4 linked regions of the Homo sapiens genome follow. The protein of the gene in region 1 purifies or fractionates together with the protein of each later gene. This does not show direct contact. Each region holds a gene or a part of one and is shown on either strand. Other genes may lie near its edges.

What was found.
Region 2: the proteins of ATP7B (region 1) and CNNM4 fractionate together in Homo sapiens (co-fractionation; one large-scale study listed by BioGRID). This does not show direct contact.
Region 3: the proteins of ATP7B (region 1) and ATP9B fractionate together in Homo sapiens (co-fractionation; one large-scale study listed by BioGRID). This does not show direct contact.
Region 4: the proteins of ATP7B (region 1) and SYNJ1 fractionate together in Homo sapiens (co-fractionation; one large-scale study listed by BioGRID). This does not show direct contact.

What each region holds. Positions count from the first base shown.
Region 1 is NC_000013.11:51,975,640-51,981,091, forward strand, and holds part of ATP7B (copper-transporting ATPase 2), read right to left. Parts: intron 1-5,452. UniProt on the Homo sapiens protein: Copper ion transmembrane transporter involved in the export of copper out of the cells. It is involved in copper homeostasis in the liver, where it ensures the efflux of copper from hepatocytes into the bile in response to copper overload.
Region 2 is NC_000002.12:96,804,588-96,809,775, reverse strand, and holds part of CNNM4 (metal transporter CNNM4 precursor), read right to left. Parts: intron 2,581-5,188; coding exon of another isoform or gene 2,495-2,580; intron 1,216-2,494; coding exon 1,034-1,215; intron 545-1,033; coding exon of another isoform or gene 457-544; coding exon 259-456; 3' UTR 1-258. UniProt on the Homo sapiens protein: Probable metal transporter. The interaction with the metal ion chaperone COX11 suggests that it may play a role in sensory neuron functions. May play a role in biomineralization and retinal function.
Region 3 is NC_000018.10:79,347,580-79,353,031, reverse strand, and holds part of ATP9B (probable phospholipid-transporting ATPase IIB), read right to left. Parts: exon of another isoform or gene 5,269-5,452; intron 5,263-5,268; coding exon 5,107-5,262; intron 4,901-5,106; coding exon 4,836-4,900; intron 1-4,835.
Region 4 is NC_000021.9:32,627,625-32,632,452, forward strand, and holds the end of SYNJ1 (synaptojanin-1), read right to left. Parts: intron 4,197-4,828; coding exon of another isoform or gene 3,371-4,196; 3' UTR 1,139-3,370; downstream 1-1,138. UniProt on the Homo sapiens protein: Phosphatase that acts on various phosphoinositides, including phosphatidylinositol 4-phosphate, phosphatidylinositol (4,5)-bisphosphate and phosphatidylinositol (3,4,5)-trisphosphate. Has a role in clathrin-mediated endocytosis.

The sequences.
Region 1 (5,452 bases):
CAACACCTTACTTCTATATCTCTTTCTAGGGGTGTCTGTCTGATTATCTTAGCAGAGGTTAAATGTGCTTAACACCCTTCAGGTACACGCTCCAAATGCAGACTTCCCAGGACCATAGGGTCGGAATCCAAAGGTGGGCCACATGCCTGTGAAAAAGCTTTGGAGGTATGCTCCCTGGGCGAGGTTTAATGAGCACCTGTGGCTGAGCCGAGGGGCGGGAGGGGAAAGGCTGGAAGAACAGAAAGTTGAGTTTCACAAGGAATTTCATAGTTCTGCCTGTGACTCAGTGTCACCGCCCTCCTGGGTGTTCAGGAGAGCTGTAGTCATTACCTGAAATTTCAGGTACATCACTTAATTAAAGAACCTGTTTTCTTAACACAACACAGTACAAGTGTTATTCCCTGGTTTCTACACAGGATGATGTAGTCTCAGTCATTCTATTAACAAGCAAAATCTTCCTTTCACAGGCTCCCAGCCTACAGCTGTCTTAACTAGATATACTTTTTACACCAGAACTTCCATGTGCTTCAGAAATTTGGGAACAGGCCTTTATACATGATACATCATAAAAAAGCACATTTCTCTCTACTTGTACACAATCCTGCTTGTCTTCAGATGAATCTCCTTTACATGGAATGATCTTCTCCTTTTTCCTGTGCATAAAATGCAGACCTTGCCAACCGGCTTTTGAGCAGCTTAACAACACAAATGTTTAAATAACTTGTAAAATGCAGACTATATAAATGTTGATTTCTATATCCACAAAGGTTTGGGATTAATAATTACATAGAATTTTAAATATTCACTGTAGCATTTCCTAAGAGAAAAAAGGGAATAATTAAGTAATTTGGGGGACAGCAGTTCAAAAGATATTGCTGAATCCAGTAAATACATGAATGTTTAATGATGTTAAGGATGGTGATACATTCTGAGAAATGAGTCATCATTGTGACTTCATCGTTGTGTGACCATCATAGAGTCACTTACACACACCTAGCTGATGTAGCCTACCAAACACCTGAGCTGTATGGTGTAGCCTGTTGCTCCTAGGCCACACACCTGTACAGCATGTTACTGTACTGAATACTGTAGGCAATTGTAACACAATGGTAAGTACTTGTGTATCTAAACATATCTGAACATAGAAAAGGTACAGTAAAAACACAATATAAAAGATTAAAAAATGGTGCACCTGTATGGGGCACTTATCATGAATGGAGCTTGCAGGACTGGAAGTTGCTCTGGGTGAGTCGGTGAATGAGTGTTGAGTAGATGTGAAGACTTAGGACACTGCACTACTGTCGATTTTATAAACACTGTAAACTTAGGCTACACTAAATTTATAAAAAATAGTTTTATTTCTTCAACAATAAATCAACATAGCCAGACAGTGGCTCATTGTAATCTCAATGCTTTGGGAGGCCGAGGCAGGAGGACTGCTTGAGCCCAGGAGTTCAAGGTTACAGTGAGCTATGATTGCACCACTGTACTCTAGCCTGGGAGACAAAACAAGACCCTGTCTCTGAAACAATAATAATAATTTATTAATTAACCTCAGCTTGCTGTAACTTTTTTACTTCATAAACGTTTAATTTTTTTTTTTTTTACTTTCGACTCTTTTGTAATAACACTTAGCTTAAAGCACAAACACACTGGACAGCTTTATCAAATATTTTCTTTATATACTTATCCTATAAGCTTTTAAAATTTTTTTATTTTTAAACTGTTTAAGCATTTTTGTTAAAAACTAAGACACAAACACATACATTAGCCTCGGCCTACACATGGTCAGGATCATCAGTATAACTGTCTTCCATCTCTACATCTTCTCCCACTGGAAGGTCTTCAGGTGCGATAACAGGCATGGAGCTGTCATCTCCTATAATAACAATGCCTTCTTCTGGATACCTCCTAGGACCTGCCTGAGGCTACTTTACAGTTAACTTTTTCTTTTTATAAGTAGAAGGAGTACACTCTAAAATAACAATAGAGTATAGTAAATACATAAACCAGTAACATAGTCATTTATTATCGAGTATTATGTACTGTACAGAATTGTATGTGCTCTATTTTTATATGACTGGCAGTACAGTAAGTTGGTTTACACCAGCTCACCAAAAATACATGAGTAATGCATTACTATGACATTACAACAGCTGCGAGATCACTAGGCAATAGGAATTTTTCAGTTTCATTGTAATATCATGGGACCAGTGTCATATGTGCAGTCCATCATTGACTAAAGCATCATGACTGTATAGTAAGGATGACATGGTATAACAATATTAACAGACAAATGACTAGCCACCTCGGACACCTACCTGGAAACGTCTACGTCAAAAGACATTTCAGGCAGATCAAAGATTAACATGTAAAAAAGAAATAACAAAAACACTAGAAGAAAACACAGGAGAATATCTACAATAATCTTAAAGTGAGAAAAGCCTAAATATGACCAACAAACCAGAACAAAACCAAGAAAATCCAAAAGCTATAAAAGATTTGACATAACTAAACACAATAAGGACAAAAAATTATTCAAATGAAGTCAAAAGATAAAAAACTGGGGGAAAAAAGATTTGCTTCACATAGCATACATTAAGAGTTAATTTCTTTAAATACAGAGAGTTCCTCCAAAAAAGAAAAAGGCCAACAATCCAAACAAAAAAGAAGACAGTTCATCAAAAAAGAAATGCATATGGTTTTTAAAATACATGGGAAAATATTAAAAAGAAATGTAACATTCCAACCACACTGGCACAGTCTTCCTACATTGCTAGTGGGAGTGTAACCTCTCTGGAGGGCAATTTGCAATACCTATTAAAATTACAAATTTACGTACTCTTTTACTCAGCAACTCTACTTCTAAGAATTTACCCAATAAATATATTTGTTCATGTGCAAAACAAAGCATGCCATGGAGATATTAAATGCTGAGAAAGATTAGAAACATCAATGTCCATCAATAAGAGGCTAGTTAATTACTGTACAGCCATAAATGGAATATTATTCAGCTCTTAAAATGAATGATGTGACTCTGTATGTAATGAAATAAGCTGATATCTAATATACTGCTCAGCAACAAAAGCAAGGCACAGAAAATATCATATATATAGCATGTGTTTGTTATCTGTTGCTACATGACAAACCAACTTTAGTACATTACTAGCAACAGCTCACAATTTTTCAATTCGGACAGGGCTTGGCAGGGAAAGCTTGTCTCTTCTCCACATAGCACCACTGGGGGTGGCCTGAATGGGGCTGGCAGTTCCACTTCCAAGAAGATAGTTCATTCATCACATGGCTGCCAAGTGGATGCTTGCTGCCGGCTAGGGGCTCAGATGAGGCTGTTGGCAGGGACCCGGTTCTCTTCCATGTGGCTTCTCTTTATGACTAGGTGGGGACCTCACAGCTGGGGGCTTCTGGGTACTGAGAGGGAGTGTCACAATAGCAAGCACTCCTCTAGAACACATTTCAAAGTGCAAGCTCTTATCAAACCTCTGCTTGCATCACACTTGCTAACACCCATTGGCCAAAACCAGTCACACGGCCAAGCACAGTCAATATGGGCAGGAATTACACGGAGCTTGAATACAAGGGTGTGTAGTTCACTGAGAGGGCTACAATTCTGTCATGGTGCTAGGACTACCTGTGTGAAACAAGAGAATATCATACAAATGGATGCTTGTATAGGCATGGATTATCTCTGGGACAGTGCAAAAGCTAGTACAGAATTTGAGGAAGATTAGGCAGCTGAAGGGGACCAGGTGGCTGGGATACAGAGAATTACTTTCACTATATAATTTAACTGTACAATACACACATTACCAAAATCTAAAAATTAATTTAAAATTAAAATAACATGAGCACAAAGAAGACTCAGAACAGTGACTTGATTGTAGTTGGTGTTAATTAAATACTTCTTTAATTAAAAAAGAACCAAGGATAAAAGAAAAACTAAGAAGATATTCAAAGACATTCATTTTCATATAGTACCTTATTAGGCAAAAACCTCTTCCTCATAATAAGAAAGACATAACCCTCAACCATCTAGTTTGTTGGAAAAACAAATCCCTCATGATAACCCAGTTTACATTTTTTGGTCCTCGCTCCAACTACAACTTTACAAACCCCAAACCATAACAGCAGCCCTTAATTTCTAGAATGTTGATTCTATGTTTCTGCCAAAAGGGTTTGCAGTAGTACTGAAAGCAATTTCTTATTATCAAACACTACTCAGAGGCCCCCCTTTCTAGACAGGCAGGTTTTTAAGGCCAAGCAGTTACAGAAGACAAAGCCTTGCAAATAACATATCTCTACAAAACACTAAAGTATCTGTTGGTCTAGGAACAACCTCATTAAACAACTGGTAGTGTTTGGATAGTTTTAAGTGTAGACACAGGGCATATGCATGCTTTTAATTCAGTTCTTCAATTAAGATGATCCTTGGGGGAAAAAACTCTCCTGATGAGTTTTAAAAAACAAACACAGGTTTAGATTTAAGGGCCCATCAAAGAGTCACAGAAATGGAGAGCAGGCCAAGGTTCCACATGGATATCCCAGAAAGCCTTGTGAAAGCCCTAGTTTATCTAATTCCCACTAGATTCTGCACTCCTTACGGACAGACATTTGGGACATTTTCTGCAGACCCAACACCAGGCTTTAGAATGACTTTTTCTAGCTTTTGAATTTTTGATAAATGATGGTAGACGTCAGGATGAGAAAGGACTGGAAGCAGAGGAGGCCACAGAAGGGAGTCCAAAAGTGAATTTCAATTCTCTGCTACCTCTCTAGGTACCCAAGTCACACGAAATTTGCTGAGAGTGCCAGGGCTTTTAAAATAAAATATAGGTTAAAAAAATAACTACTGATTCACCAAGATGAAGCCAGAAAGGAAAACAAAATCTCTGGATAAGCCATTCTGATATGAAGAAATCAGAAACTGGGTGGCATGTTTTCATGAAGGCTTTCAAAGCCAATCTGATAGTGAAAAAGCAGAAACAACATGCTTTGTTAGAAAGTGGCTGTGATCACAAATCAAAAAATACTAACTCATGTACAAGTGAAGGACCACTGGCCACTTTGGAGGTCTCTTGATCACTCTTGGATTCCCATCAACCTTAAATAGGATACCAGTCAGTCCCCTGCTGCCTATCCTCAAGAATTCTTTCACTTTGAAGGATGTATAACACCCATAACAACTTATGAGGCAAACATGTTATACATGAAGGCAACTTTTCCAATATATCACCTCCCCCCATACAACTTAACACATCTGAACTTTCATGGGATTCAAAATACAAAAAAGTCCGGATTCTTTCATATGCACGCAGATCCAATAATAACAAATAATTAATGATTCTGAGTGTTATTTTATGAGGATGGCATTTTATATCCCTCATGCTTAGGGCAATTCTAGAAGGAGATATTATCACCATTTCACTGTTGAAAC
Region 2 (5,188 bases), on another chromosome or scaffold:
AATTCTCTCAGTAAAAAACAGCCTTTGCTTACGGTAGCTGGCCCACTGCCCCCCCTATCCAGGGCTGGACAGTGCCACCTCAGAGCTACTCAGAGGTCCCTGGCAGAGGCCAGATCCCCCATAGGCTGGGGGCCATCTGGCTGTTCAGTCAGACAGGCTATCTATCCGTATCCTTTCTGGACTAACAGGTTCCCTCTCTTCATGTGGGCCCACTGGGGAGGCCCCCGCAGGGTGGGCAGGGGGCCCCGGGCCCTCCTGTCAGATGGCATTCTCGTGGGAGGCTTTGTGCAGCAAGGAGTTACGCTCGTTGAGAAGAGTTGTGGTCTCGTCCACCACAGGCAGCTCAGACTTCTCGGCCAAGTTCTCCATGTGGGTGGTGCACCCGTCTATGGGAAACTGAGGGCTGTTCTCCATGCGAGAAGCCAGCAGCCCGTTCTGGTACTGCTGCCGAGTGATCTGCATGAGGAAGGGATGAGTTCATGGAGGGAGGGGCTGGGAGGCAGACCCTATCACCAGGCCTGGAGAAACAGGGCCAGGATTGAGGCTGTGAGTTGAGAGAGAACATGACCAGTCAGCGTCTCTGGAAGCCCTTACAAAGAACAAGGTGCACGAACAAGAGAAGAAAGCATCTCAGGGCTGGGCACAGTGGCTCACACCTGTAATCCCAGCACTTCAGGAGGCTGAGGCGGGCAAATCGCTTGAGCCCAGGAGTCTCAAGCCAACTTGGGCAACACAGTGAGACCCCATCTCTATAAGGGGAAAAAAAAAAAAAACCCGAAGCCACATGCACACCTGTAGTCCCAGCTACTCAGGAGGCTGAGGTGGGAGGAATCCTTGAACCCAAGAGTTCAAGGCTGAAGTGGGCTATGATCACACCACTGCATTCCAGCCTGGGCGACAGAGCAAGACCCCATCTCCAGAAGAAAAAGGCATCTCGGGTTTGGGCCCACCATGCTGGGTTTGGTGGATGAAAGTAGTAGCTGATTCCTGAGCAGAAGATAGCACTGCCCAGACAGGGCAGTGAGGCACTCACCTTGATGTACTGCAAGTCCACGAGTGCCCGGACGCTGAAGTCAGAGATGTACTGGCCCAGGACAGAGCTGCCAAACTGGTTGCTGCTGCCTGCCAAGGTTGCTGCAGTTGAGACGTCTGTGCGGTCTGGGTAACTGAGGGAGGCTGAGCGGCTGAGTGGGGTGGGGTGTGCTGGGGAACGGTCTGCAGGGAGAGCAGAGGTTGTCATGCCAAAGGCCACTCCGATGCCCACTCTCACCCTCATGTCTCACCTCATCCCATGGAAGCCCAGGGACACCCCACCCAGGAACAGGAAGTCATTCTTAGGGACAAACAGAAGCATGTAGAAGGTCTGACTGCATAAGGTCTGACTTCGTTAAAGCAAATGAATTAGTTTGTTTAGAACTATTGTGCAACAAGTATTAAAAAGTCTACCAAAACAAATCAACCAAACAGAAAATAAAAACCACAGACTTAGAAAGTTTATGGCTACAAAATCTCTCGTTTCCCACAACAACCAATCAGTCAAGGGCAACACAATGATCATCCTAGCAGGACAGGCAAACTGCCATTCTTAGGCTGGGCACAGTGGTTCACATTTGTAATCCCAGCACTTTGGGAGGCCGAGGCAGGAGGATGACCTGAGGTCAGAGTTGGAGACTAGGCTGGCCAACATGGTGAAACCCCATCTCTACTAAAAATACAGAAATTAGCCAGGCATGGTGGCAAACACCTGTAATCCCGGCTACTTGGGAGGCTGAGGCAGGAGAATCGCTTGAACCTGGGAGGTGGATATTGCAGTGAGCCAAGCTGGCACCACTGCACTCCAGCTTGGGTGACAGAGCAAGACTCTGTCTCAAAACAAACAAGCAAACTGCCATCCTTGTCTCAATACCAGCTTGTATCAAGTGACATAAACTGCATACTTTTAAATAAAAAATATGCATTAAAAGGAAGAATGTATAGTTTGCACTCTCTCTCTGTGAATACACACCCCACACATAAGATGCCCCGTCACACCTTTTCTTTGGAGACAGAGTCTTACTCTGTCACCCAGGCTGGAGTGCAGTGGCATGATTTTGGCTCACTGCAACCTCCGCCTCCCAGGTTTAAGCAATTCTGCTGCCTCAGCCTCCTGAGTAGCTGGGATTACAGGTGCCCAACACCACGCCTGGATAATTTTTTTTCTTTTTCTTGTTTTTTTGGTTTTGTTTTGTTTTTGTTTTTGTTTTTTTGAGATGGAGTCTTACTCTGTCACCCAGGCGCATTCCACCATGCCTAGCTAATTTTTTTTTTGTATTTTTAGTAGAGACGGGGTTTCACTGTGTTAGCCAGGATGGTCTCGATCTTATGACTGCTGGTGATCCGCCTGCCTCAACCTCGCAAAGTGCTGGGATTACAGACAGGTGTGAGCCACTATGGCCCTGCCAGCCCTGTCACCTCTTAAATGCTCTTATCAGGGGCTGGGCGAGGTGGCTCACACCTGTAAGCACCTTAGGAGGCCGATGCGGGCAGATTGCTTGAGCCGGAGTTCAAGACCAGCCTGGGCAACACAGCAAAACCGCATCTCTACAAAAAATACAAAAATTAGCCAGGCGTGGTGGCTTTTACCTGTGGCCCCAGCTCCTTGGGTGGCTGAGGTGGGAGGGTCACCTGAGCCTGGGAGGCGGAGGTTGTAACGAGCCGAGATTGTACCACTACACTCTGTCCACCCGCCGAACACCCAAAAAAGAAAATGCTTTTATGGAGTCAAAAGTGTGTTTTGCACACAACCTACTCAGCGTGAAACACAGTCCTACCCACTTCCACCTGCAACCCAGCCAGCCTGGCCGGGGCGGGTCAGGGTGACAGGCGCTTCTCCCCTCTCATGAGGCAGAGTTGTAACAATCTCGAATCTCGAATAAGAGTTGTAACAATCTTGAATAAGGAAGAATGGGCTTCTTATTTTGAAAAAGAAACTGCTTTTTCAAATGATATACGTTACTGTATATCATTAACTTGTTTTTGAGAACACAGGAAACCATGAAACGCACAAAGAAGTTAATTGTGAAGACATGCAGGATGGTTTTAAACAAACAGGAAGCGGACTAAGCTGATTTGCTTATTTAACTATTAAGTTACTAAGTTAGCCATTCTAACAAATTGCCAAGTGAAGAGAACAAACATACTGAATCTAGTGACTCAATGACCAATACAATTTTTAACTAAGGGCGCGCGCGCGCGCGCGCGTGTGTGTGTGTGTGTGTGTGTGTGTGTGTTGGATAGCTAGGGAAGGAAGAAGAGTAGAGATGAAGAACAAAGGGGAAAATAAAAATTAAATGAGACAAAAGAGGGACCTGGTAAGGTCTTAGTGGGTCGTGAACTGAGGATAATCATTAATTCAACTCTGAACCCAAGATCTAATTAAATAAAAAAAAAAGAGAGAGAAGTCTGAGTTCAAGTCTTTATGACTGACGTTATCAAAAGTGGTTTCATGTTTATGTAGCTCTGTATTTTGTAGATTTGAGAACATTTTAGCTGGAAAGCTAGTAATTTCATGTTCCTAAAACATCTAATTATTTTCATAAAACTGAAAAGAAGGTGTCAGCCCCCCGCCCGGCCAGCCGCCCCGTCCGGGAGGGCGGTGGGGGGGTCAGCCCCCCGCCCGGCCAGCCGCCCCCTCCGGGAGGGAGGTTGGGGGGGGTCAGCCCCCCTGCCCGGCCAGCCGCCCCGTCCGGGAGGTGAGGGGCGCCTCTGCCCGGCCGCCCCTACTGGGAAGTGAGGAGCCCCTCTGCCCGGCCACCACCCCGTCTGGGAGGTGTACCCAACAGCTCATTGAGAACGGGCCAGGATGACAATGGTGGCTTTGTGGAATAGAAAGGCGGGAAAGGTGGGGAAAAGATTGAGAAATCGGATGGTTGCCGTGTCTGTGTGGAAAGAAGTAGACATGGGAGACTTTTCATTTTGTTCTACACTAAGAAAAATTCCTCTGCCTTGGGATCCTGTTGATCTGTGACCTTACCCCCAACCCTGTGCTCTCTGAAACATGTGCTGTGTCCACTCAGGGTTAAATGGATTAAGGGCGGTGCAAGATGTGCTTTGTTAAACAGATGCTTGAAGGCAGCATGCTCGTTAAGAGTCATCACCAATCCCTAATCTCAAGTAATCAGGGACACAAACACTGCGGAAGGCCGCAGGGTCCTCTGCCTAGGAAAACCAGAGACCTTTGTTCACTTGTTTATCTGCTGACCTTCCCTCCACTATTGTCCCATGACCCTGCCAAATACCCCTCTGTGAGAAACACCCAAGAATTATCAATAAAAAAATAAATTTAAAAAAAAATAATAAAAAAAAAAAAAAAAAAAAACTGAAAAGAAGCCAGGGTATAACAACAGAGACTAAACTGAGTAATACTCTATCTTTGTGCTTAAGTAAAGCTTTGATTTTTATTTATAAAACTAGGAAACTACAGTTTCCTAGTTTACAGTTTATAGTTTATAGTTTCTCAGGAAACTGGCCATTCTATGATGAGGTTGTGGTATTCCCATGCAAGAACAGGAAATATTTTAGAGGATCATTAGAGGATCAAGTGCAAGTATCTAATGAGTAACATCTCTGATTAAGTTCTAGGAAAAGCAGAAATACTAGGGGTATTACTTAATACTTCACATAGCTATCTGAATGATGGAATGCTTTTAATTAATGCTAACACTCTAGAAACAGGAACTGAATTTTATTTTTAAAATAAACAATTTATTTTCTTTTTCAACTGAATTTATTTTATTATTATTATTTTTTAAAGGGTCTTGCTATGTTACCTCGGCTGGTTTGAAACTCCTGGGCTCAAGCGATCCTCCTGCCTCAGCCTCCCAAAGTGCTAGGATTACAGGAATGAGCCACCAAGCCTGGCCAAGAGACTGAATTTAAAACCAACACAAATTAGTGACATGGGCAGAGTGCGGTGGCTCACACCCGTAATCCCAGCACTTTGGGAGGCTGAGGCGGGCGGATCACCTAACATCAGGAGTTCAAGACCAGCCTGGCCAATATGGCAAAACCCTGTTTCTACTAAAAATACAAAATTTGGCCAGGCACGGTGGCTCACGCCTGTAATCCCAGCACGTTGGGAGGCCGAGGCGGGTGGATCACGAGGTCAGGAGTTCAAGACCAGCCTGGCCAACATGGTGAAACTCCGTCT
Region 3 (5,452 bases), on another chromosome or scaffold:
ATTTTCTTGTGCTTACTGACCATTCTTATGTCTTCTTTTGTGATGAATGTTCAAATCTTTCATCTTAAAAACAAAACTGAGTTGTCTGTCTGATCGTTGAGTTGAAGATATGTACTGAAAGTATTTTACTCTTGTCTGCCTTTTTACTTGATTAGTACTATGTTTAGAAGAGCAAAAACTTAATTTTTATGAAGTCCATCATGTCAGTTTATTCTCCATGCATCACGATGTTCATGCTTAGGAAGTCTGTGCCAATCTGGGCACAGGTTGGGGGGCCCTAGAACCCACCAGAGCCTGGCCCTCCTCTGAGATTTGCACACACTGAAGTTTACTCTGACAAACTTCACAGCAGGTACAAGGACTCTTGAAACACAGAGGTTTCGAGGCCCTCTGGCTGTTGAAACACAGAGGTTTCGAGGCCATGTGGCTGTTGAAACAGAGGTTTTGAGGCCGTCTGGCTGTTCGTTCTAGATGTGGGAGAGTTGTTTCTCTTCTCTGAGGCATCCCTGTCCCCAGCTTCTTATCCAATGTCTGAAAACATTTGTTTCACGTGTTTTCTTGTGTTTTGCATTTAATTAGGCTTGGAAGATAAATCTGTTTATCACGGCTGGAAGCAGAAGTTCTCAAGACCCTCTCTGATAAACCCACAGAGCCTCCCGTTCCTGCAGGTCTGGACACGGCTCCCCGAGGGACCTGCCTGTGCTCCTCCTGCCCAGAGCTCTCTCTCGGAATGTCATGCACCTTCTTGGTGCTCAATTAAGGTTCAATCTGACTTTAACGAGAGCACTCACAGGCTATCCATCTGAGTCACTAGCAAGGGTAAAAGAAGACCCACACCCAGGAATGGCTGCTATGATGTGGCGCTGTGTGTGAGGTCCTCGCCGGCAGCTGCCAGAATCTCTGGGGAGACAGACACCTCTGGCCAGTTCAGACTAGCTTTTCCCAAAGCATTTTCGTGGAACATGAGTTGTGGGCTCATGAGATCAGAAGTCTCTCTCAGAGCCTCCAACTTGCCAAAGTGCACAATGCTGCACCCTACAGAGGTTCCCCATGAGGACTTGGCCTAGGAGCTCTCTTTCTCGGGGAGGGCATGGCATTCCCCAGGCCTGCTTGGGGGGCAAGGGCAGAGTGGGCTTGGGGGTCACAGGAACCTCCCCAGGCTGTCCTGTCTCTCCCAGCCCCTCCTGCTGCCCCATCCCCCATCCCCCTAGGCTTCCCCATCACCACCTTTGCGGCCCCCATGGTCCCTGGTCCCTCCCTGGGTTTCCCTGCTGTGCACTGAGTATGCCTAGTCCTTCCTGCTCTTGGGGCCTCTTGCTTCAGGAAAGTCACCTGGGCCAACAGTTCCCTCCAGAGCTGATGAAATGAATGCAGATGAAAACCATATTTGTGGAATTAAATTCTATCAACTGTCCTCTAGGTTCTAGAGCCAGTTTATCATAGACATGATTTTGTTCTAGTTAGATGTTATTTTGTAAAAACATCATGTTGATTTTTGTTCAATTCTTGGTATTTATTTCCTAGGTGAAGGCAAACTCATTATTTATTTTCAAAGAAGCTTAACTAAAGGCATCGCCCCTCCAAAGCTCCCACCTAACCCAATTCAGAGTATGAGTGCTTAAGAAAGTCACAGACGTTTCTTTTGTGACGGACACTCAGAGTTACTTTACATGAAGCCCATTATAAAGAAGAGCTGTAGGAACAGGAGCTGGGGACGCTGCAGAGCACTCGGGCTGTGAGGCAGGCACAGGCCTCACTAACCCAAGCAGTAGTTCTTTAAAGAATAATCTCCATGGTCCCCCACATTTTCCTTTTCATGTTTCAAATCCATGATTTTTAAAATATGAAAGAAGGTGAGAAGGGTTATGCTTTTCTATGACTTCCAAGGAAGAAACACACTGTTCAAACTCAAGATGCAATCAGTATTACTGTGCAAATTCTGTACTATTTAAAAGTAACTAGGCTGGACGAAGGGGCTCATGCCTGTAATCCCAACACTTTGGGAGGCTGAGGCAGGTGGATCATTTGAGGTCAGGAGTTCGAGACCACCCTGGTCAACATGGCAAAACCCCGTCTCTACTAAAAATATACAAAAATTAGCTGGGCGTGGTAGCACATGCCTGCAATCCCAGCTACTTGGGAGGCTGAGGGAGGAGAATCACTTGAACCTAGGAGGCAGAGGTTGCAGCGAGCTGAGATCACACCACTGCACTCCAGCCTGGGCGACACAGCAAGACTCTGTCTCAAAAAAAAAAAAAAAGCAACTAATGTAATAATTACTGTAAATATGTAGGCAATGGGAAAACTTATTTAAAAAGCGTTAGCACTTATTGTACCTTTAGGATTTTTCACCTTTGTTTGAAGTACTATAGGAAACACTACTGGAATTCACGGAAAGCTGAGAATATTAGCACAAATCCTACCACCATTTCCATCAACTGTATGGGCTATGAGTTGGTAGGTTGCTGGGACATTCTTTGGTCACGTAGAGTCATGAAATAAGGTTCAAGTTGACACCATGGACGCACAGTGCTGTCCTGTGCTACCTCATACTGGGGCTGAGGGAGCCTCAGCGGCCAGGAGAGCCCAGGGCCGATGACGGCGCTTTCCTTGTGGGCCACAAAAAGAGAGTCTGCAATGCTTACGATCATGGGGGTTATTCCCTGAGTGATTACAGCAGGCAGGGGCCTAAAACAGAGGCACTTGTGCGAAGATGAAGGGCTAGGGGTGAGAGAAGCCTGAAGACACCTGCGAAGGTTTCCCTAGGCTCTTACCTACTTTATTCAAAGTGATTTTTAAGACCACAGGACAGGCTGCTGCTATCTTGGGAGGAACGGTGCTAACATGTGCAGGCGAAGGACGTGGAGTCCGAAGCAGGTGCCCCAGGAGTCTTGGTAGCTGTGAGCCCCACAGCTCAGCTGTCCTGAGGCTTGGGGTGGGGGGCCTAGAATCCGCCAGAGTCTGGCCCTCCTCTGAAATTCGCATGCACTGAAGTTCACGCTGACAAACTCACAGCAGGTACGAGGACCCGATATACCTTGTGCCTTGTCCTTGTAGAGCACGCAGGAGAATAGGACGCTAACTGGTAATACAACTGCGCAGCCTGGGGGTGTGAAGGTGCATGGTGGGGGGGGGGGTGCGGGGCCTCCCAGGGAAGCAAGGACAATGGGGACATCTGGCAGTGGTCTAGGCCAAGGGGACATCATGTGTGGAGGCCAGAGGACAGAGAGGACCTGAAGACTGGAGACGGAAGGAAGGCAGAGACCCAAGTGCCAGCTCTGTGCATGCTCCTTGGACAGCTCAGGATGACGGGGGCGCCTCTCAGTGATTCTAACTCAGGAAAAAGGTGACTTAAGAGGACCTCACATGTTTAACAAAAACCTAACACACGCACAGACTGATATTTCCCTGTATTTTGCTAAAATTGTGAGGAACTCCTGGGATTCAGGGAGCTGTCGAGTGAAACGGTGTTTAGACTGCGGACTAGAAACAGCTATGCAGGGAGAAAGGACTCTGTTTCTCTGTGGACCTGGGGTAAGCTCAGTGGCTGCGTGACGGTGAGGAGCAGCACCCGGCGCCAGCCCCTGACAACTCAGGTCTGAGCTGGGCCTCCCACGGGTGAGTTCCTGAGCTCTCTGGGTCTCTCACTTTTCTCACACATGAAGTGGGGACAAGGTGAGGATGAAAGCACGTTCAACGCCAAGAGCATCGAAGCCAGTGGCTGTTACTATTCAAGTATTTTCTGAGACTCTTTGTGGAGTGGAACCTGGTTAAGGTGGGCATGAGCTTTGCAGAGGTCAGGGAGGTCAGTGGCAGATGAGAGGCTGCTTTTAGTTTGCTGCCAACACCAACAGTCACACTGATTTCATTTCTAGTCATAACCACAGAGGAGGAGGAAAAGAGAAATTCCCACCTATTCCCTCTTCACAGGAAGCTCCTGTTTTGCAGATACAGCAGCAAAATCAGCTCAGCTTTCAATGCACGTCGCATGCCTGCTGTGCTTTTGGTGTCCTTTTCTAAGACACTGCTGCTGTTATCTTTGTTTTTTGAGATGGAGTCTGACTTTGTTGCCCAAGCTGGAGTGCAATGGCACGATCTTAGCTCACTGAAACCTCCCCGTCCCGGGTTCAAGTGATTCTCGTGCCTCAGTCTCCTGAGTAGCTGGGATTACAGGCACACACCACCACGCCTGGCTAATTTTTTTGTATTTTTAGTAGAGACAGGGTTTCGCCATGTTAGCCAGGCTGGTCTCGAACTCCTGACCTCAGGTGATCCACCCACGCCCACTTCAGCCTCCCAAAGTGCTGGGATTACAGGCGTGAGCCACCGCGCCCAGCCCTGGTGCTGCTATCTTTGAAAATGAGATTCCATTCCTGCCCAGGAGAGACCAACAGTGTTTGCTTCGAAGCATGCCACACCATGTCCCTGCACTTCCTGTTCTCTCTTTGCTGCTGGCCACGCCGCACAACAGGATGAAGCCCCAGCCAGGGGAGGGCAGCCTGCAGAGAGCCGGGAGGGCCTGTCAGTGGCCACTCTGCCCCTCCGCCTTCTGCCACGGGACCCTTTAAAAATCTCAGATCCAACACAGTTCCTGACACAAACTATGGCTTCCACTTGAAAACAAAATCTAATAAGAAAATCCCAGGAGGAACAAGTGTGCAGGTGCTGTCTTGAAGTTCACCCAAGTAAAATGTTGTTTTTACATCAGTATTATTCATTCTAAATGATGACTGTATCAAGAATCTTCTATATACGTTTTTTGTTTTTTTTTTTTTTTTTTTTTCAAAATAGAAGTCCTCCCCTGGATGAGCTGGCAGGTTCTGAGTGTAACTTACCCCACCATGAGGAAGCCCTGATACAAAGGGACGGATGCGAAGTAGAAGACTGAGGAAAACACAGCCTGGAGAGAGAGCCCACAGACGAAGACAACTGTCAGTTCCACGAGCACCTGTGGCCCCAAGCCTCTCAGGGGCCTCGCTAACTCCTAAGCACAGCCCAGGTACTTCCGGCAGCACTCAGCACCCCCACTCCCGGACCCTGCCCTTCCCGGACCCTGCCCTTCCTGGACCCTGCCCTCCATGGGTGCCAGCACAGAAGGCTTAGTACCTGCATGGTGGAGATGATAAGGCCCCTGTGCATGACGAACTGGCCGAGTGCCGCCGACCTCTTGTAGCTGTTCCGCCCGTGCACCATGAGCAGCCTGCCTATGTGCCGGAACTGCGTGATGGAGAAGTCGGCCGCCAGCGAGGCCTGTTTACCCTCCTGAGAGAAAAGCACACGGGGCCTTTTCAAACATGGCGGACGCTGGAAATCAGACTCCAAAAGTGAGTTTTAGAACTCAGCCTAAATGTTACAAAGACCGAAATTCTCTCTGCAGAACTTGTAAAGCTTCAGCTCCGTCGATGGGGACAGGTCCTATGGTCTCAGACACAGGGGCAGGAAGAGCCCCCAG
Region 4 (4,828 bases), on another chromosome or scaffold:
TCTCCTGGGCTCAAGTGATGCCCCACCTCAAACTTCTGAGTAGCTGGGACTACAGGGACGCACCACCATGCCCAGCTAATTTTTTTGATTTTTACCAGAGATAAAGTCTATGTTGTCCAGGCTAGTGTCGAACTCCTGGGCTCAATCAATCCTCCTGCCTTAGCCTCCCAAAATGCTGGGAGTATAGGCATGAGCCATTGCACCTTGCCTAGCCTTGGCCTCTTTTTCTTTTTTTTGAGACAGTCTTGCTCTGTCCCCCAGGATGAAGTGCAATGGCGTGATCTCGGCTCACTGCAACCTCTGCCTCCCAAATTCAAGCTATTCTCCTGCCTCAGCCTCCTGAGTAGTTGGGATTACAGACGCCTGCCACCACGCCCGTCTAATTTTTGTATTTTTAGTAGAGACAGGGTTTCACCATGTTGGTCAGGCTGGTCTCGAACTCCTGACCTCATGATCCACCCATCTCGGCCTCCCAAAGCGCTGGGATTACAGGCGTGAGCCACCACGCCCGGCCCTGGCCTTTTAATTTGGGTCTCTTTAGGCAGTCCCTTTTTCTGATTGGCTATTTTTGTCCCAATTCCTCTTTGCCCCCCACTTGTTCCTTCTACTTTGGGTAAGAAAAATCATTCATATTTCTTGTATTATTTTCAAGTCAGCATGTTTTTGCGTGAGGGCCTCTCTTATGGAATAAGTGCATGGACTTTTTTTTTTTTTTGAAACAGAGTTTCGCTCTTCTCGCCCAGGCTGGAGTGCAATGGCACAATCTCGGCTCACTGCAACCTCTCCCTCCCAGGTTCTAGTGATTCTCCTGCCTCAGCCTCCCCAGTAGCTGGGATTACAGGCCTGCACCACCACGCCCAACTAATTTTTTTTTCATATTTTTAGTAGAGATGGGGTTTCACCATGTGGGCCAGGCTGGGCATGGACTTTTTAATAATGATTAGTAATCTCGGAAAATCTTCTTAGTTTTAGAGGAAGCACTATCTGGAGAAATGAAAATAAGGTCTTGAATTAAAATATCTGATTCGGCAATAAGGGTTAAGCTTATTTTGTTTGAACGTCACCAAACTTGTGTATGTAAAGTACAAGGAAAATGGCTGAGAAAAATTCTTCCCTTTCTAACAAAGAAGTCAGCATGGTAAAGACAGATATATTTATTTCATATGACAGCACGTTTCACAGGATATGTACAGAATGTCTGTGTACCACTGACTTTAATACTGTACTTCTATAAAGTTTATAGTTATAAATATTGTATGCCACATAAGCAATAAAATTCTTACATATAAACAGCAATCTAATATAGAGAACACAGAGTTCACAAAGAGATCCTTAGTGTCTAACTTCTGCTCTGCTTTTAACAGAACTAGTAAATATTTAATAATACATAGAATAATGGCTAGTTATTTGCAGCATACCTTTAACTTTCATAACTTTGTGCATTTTCAGCAACTTGCCAAGTATAATTTTCCTGATAAAGGCTGGGCTGCTGATATGTATATTTTAGACAGTAGTTTATATTCAATAGGAAACATTGCTCACAGATCTGCAATTTGCACTAGTGAAGTTTACCTAACAATGAATTATTTTGCTAATGGAGAGCAAATACCATATACACTAGTCACATGGATGTTAAAGCCACAGTTTCAACAAGTTAATTCACATTTTGAAGCAACTGCTTATAGTAATACTGCTGTTTAAGACGCTACTGCTGAAATGATTAGAACCTCCAAAAAGCACAATATAAAACTCACAAGAGTTATTTCTAACAGCAAATCTTGGCTGTTAACAGAGAAGATTACTTCTATAAATATAGTATTTTGATAACATTTGAGCATTTAGAAAAATGCTTTTTTTCTAATAGATTTGCTTTATAAGTGCAGTGCAGTTTGCTGTGCTTTTAACATTCTACATATTCGTAGCCATGAACGCTATTTTTTGATATTCCCTCAATGTACATCTTTAAAGGTTAAGTGTGGACATAGGAATTTAGGTGGACATATACAACTCTTTATATAAAAGGAATGTTAATGTAAGTCTTAATGGGTAAAGATGATTGTAACTGAAACTGACAAAGAAACAACTATTGCTCAAGGAGTTTTCTGATTGGTTTACTTAATGATATCAAAATACTACATTCTGTAAAAATTCTGTGTACTTCTTCAAAAAATTAATAAAAGCGGGATCAGTTGCATATTGGCAGTGCAGGAGACAAAATCCGCAGCTACTTTGAGGTATAGCCTCTAAAAACTTAAAGCAGCATCATAGATGTGTTATGTAGCCTCGTAAGAGGGGGGAGAACACACACTGGGTATATTCCCAATTCAAAGCACTCAGGGGACAGCTGCTTTCCCTGCTAAAAGCAAAGTTCCAGAGCAAAAGCAGCAAAAAGAAAATATGGGAGGGATATGGGCAACGTATACTCGAACGTACGCAGAGAAGAGAGTACGGTTAGCTCTAATATTTCTCATTGAACTTGGTGGTATGTGCCTTCCCTGCATATAAGGCCATAGTGCTTTTTTGGGAGCGCTAGAATATCCATCCACTTGACAGTGACCACAAAATAGGCTGTTTCCAGCTGCAAGAACCTCCTCCTGGAGAAAAGCGTATGAAGGTGCTGGAGTGAAAAGTAACAAGGTTGTGTGTATTTGAAGGGGTTGGGTGTGGAACGGTAGAAAATTCTGATTCTGTGGTGAGATTATTCTAGTTTTGAAAACAAAATTAATGAAAGGTCCAAATTACATTTGCAGCCATCTTTTTGGTAATGTGATATTGAAAAAGGGACTTTGTTGGAACTTTTAGGTATAATTTGGTCTGAGTTATAGCCTAGAAATTAAAGTATGAATTGTAAAAATATGTAAATGTATACAGAAGTACATGTGTTTGTATGTATTATATATGTACACATACCTATACTTTTTTCCTTTAAAGCAATGCCTTTCAAAACTCTGTTCACTGTAACCTTGGCAGCTCTTTGGTAAATACTCAAAGATACCAATTGTTAACAAGTATGAGAGGGCTGGTGGAAATGTCAGCTGAAAGTTGGGTGGGCTTTTTGAGATTCTTCAGAAGACTGACCGAAAAGTTTCTGAATAAGGACTGTTTTCTAAAGTATAAGTACTTTTTATGGCTACTACTGTCTCCTATTCATCCAAAGAGAAATACATCAAAACTCCAGTTAACAATGAGAAGGGTTTTTCCTTATTTCCAATATACACATAGTCCAACTCTGTACACATCAAATAGTGGTGTTTTGTGAAGATATCAGTGCACTTACAATGACTTATTGCACATAATGAAATACTAATGCCCAATTCTCTTAGCTCTATCCTGCCAAAAGCAAGTACCCACTGTTTTCTATTGCATGGCGTTATCTTTCTGTAAAGTCCAGTGTGGGTGAAGCCTTAGAGGCCAAGGTCGTGAAAGGATCTACTGGAGGGCTGGTGCCGGGCGGGAGCAGAGGGACAGGAGGTGGAGGAGGTCTTCTTGACGGCAACACACAGAAGGAGACATTTGTACCTTTATTCCAGTCATCATTCAATGTCAGGTTGGAGCCAGAAAATGAACTTGGCTGATTACCCAGTAAGTCTGAACAAGCTGACTTTGACTTCCCTTTCACACCAAAATCCTCTTCTTCCTCGAAGGTTACCCATCCTTTCGGGTTGCTAATTTTTAATGTAGACTGGCCCTGTAGATCAAAACTGTCCTTAAAGCCATCAAGTGAAGATGAAGCCCTGCTTTTGTTATGACCAAGAGGCTGCAGAGAAGGGAAAGGACTGATAGTAACGGGCTCTTCTTTGGAGAACCATGAAGTTGCCTCTGATTCTTCAGACTTGGCTCTAAATGGGTTTCCAGGAGCAGCAGTCCTGTCACTGAAAGGATTTGTCCTGGTCAAGCCAGTAATAAATGGGTTTGGAGAACTTCGCATATTTTCCTGGGATTGACTCCGAGCTGGAATTGGAGGCATTGTTGGCATGCAACTTACAGAACTCAAAACATTACTTTGCGTTGCAGAAGGCAACTGAATCAACCTCTTTGGGTCTGGGGTGGGAACAGGTGACGTTTGAACAGATAGCTGAGCCTTTGATACAGCAAGCAGATTAAATGACAGATCTTCAAATGGGTCAATCTTTAATGGTGATTCTCTTTTGCCATCAGAGATTCCATTTGTTTTTACCTGCAAAAGAAAGGGAGCACTGAAAAATCAGTTTATATTTACTCTTAATACCCCCTATTCTTCCTGTCTCAATTATTCTTCCCTTTTAGGGGCAAGCATGTAAATTTAGAAACTAAAAAGTAGCTTTGTGTAGTTTGTTACTCCGGTGGTTTAAATAACATGAAACACCTACAGTCTTTAAAAACTTCTTTCTAAATAAATCCTTTCTAATTAAATCCATTTTTAAATCCCTCAAAATCAAAGAGCTTATTTCATTCATGCAAGTTTTGAAATGGTAAGAAGGAGAATTGTACAGAATTAACAAATTTGTTCATGCCCAGTTCTATCACATTTCAGCATGAACTTAAGAAATCCATACTTATAACTTATGCTAAATCTATATAAATAAAATTCTAACACCCATCTATGATGATGATGTGGTTTCATTGTTCTTTTAAGTGTGTTTTCTAAAATTAATGTTACTATGGAAATTCAATTTTATAGATAAAATTAATTCTATTAGCATATTTTATTCCTAAGACGAAGACTCCATCTTTCTGTCTTCTACTTGGAAAAATAAATTTTGAGAGTTCTTTGCCCACCCCCTCTTTTTTTTTTTTTTGGAGACCAAGTCTTGTGCTGTCACCCAGGCTGGAGTGCAATGGCACGATT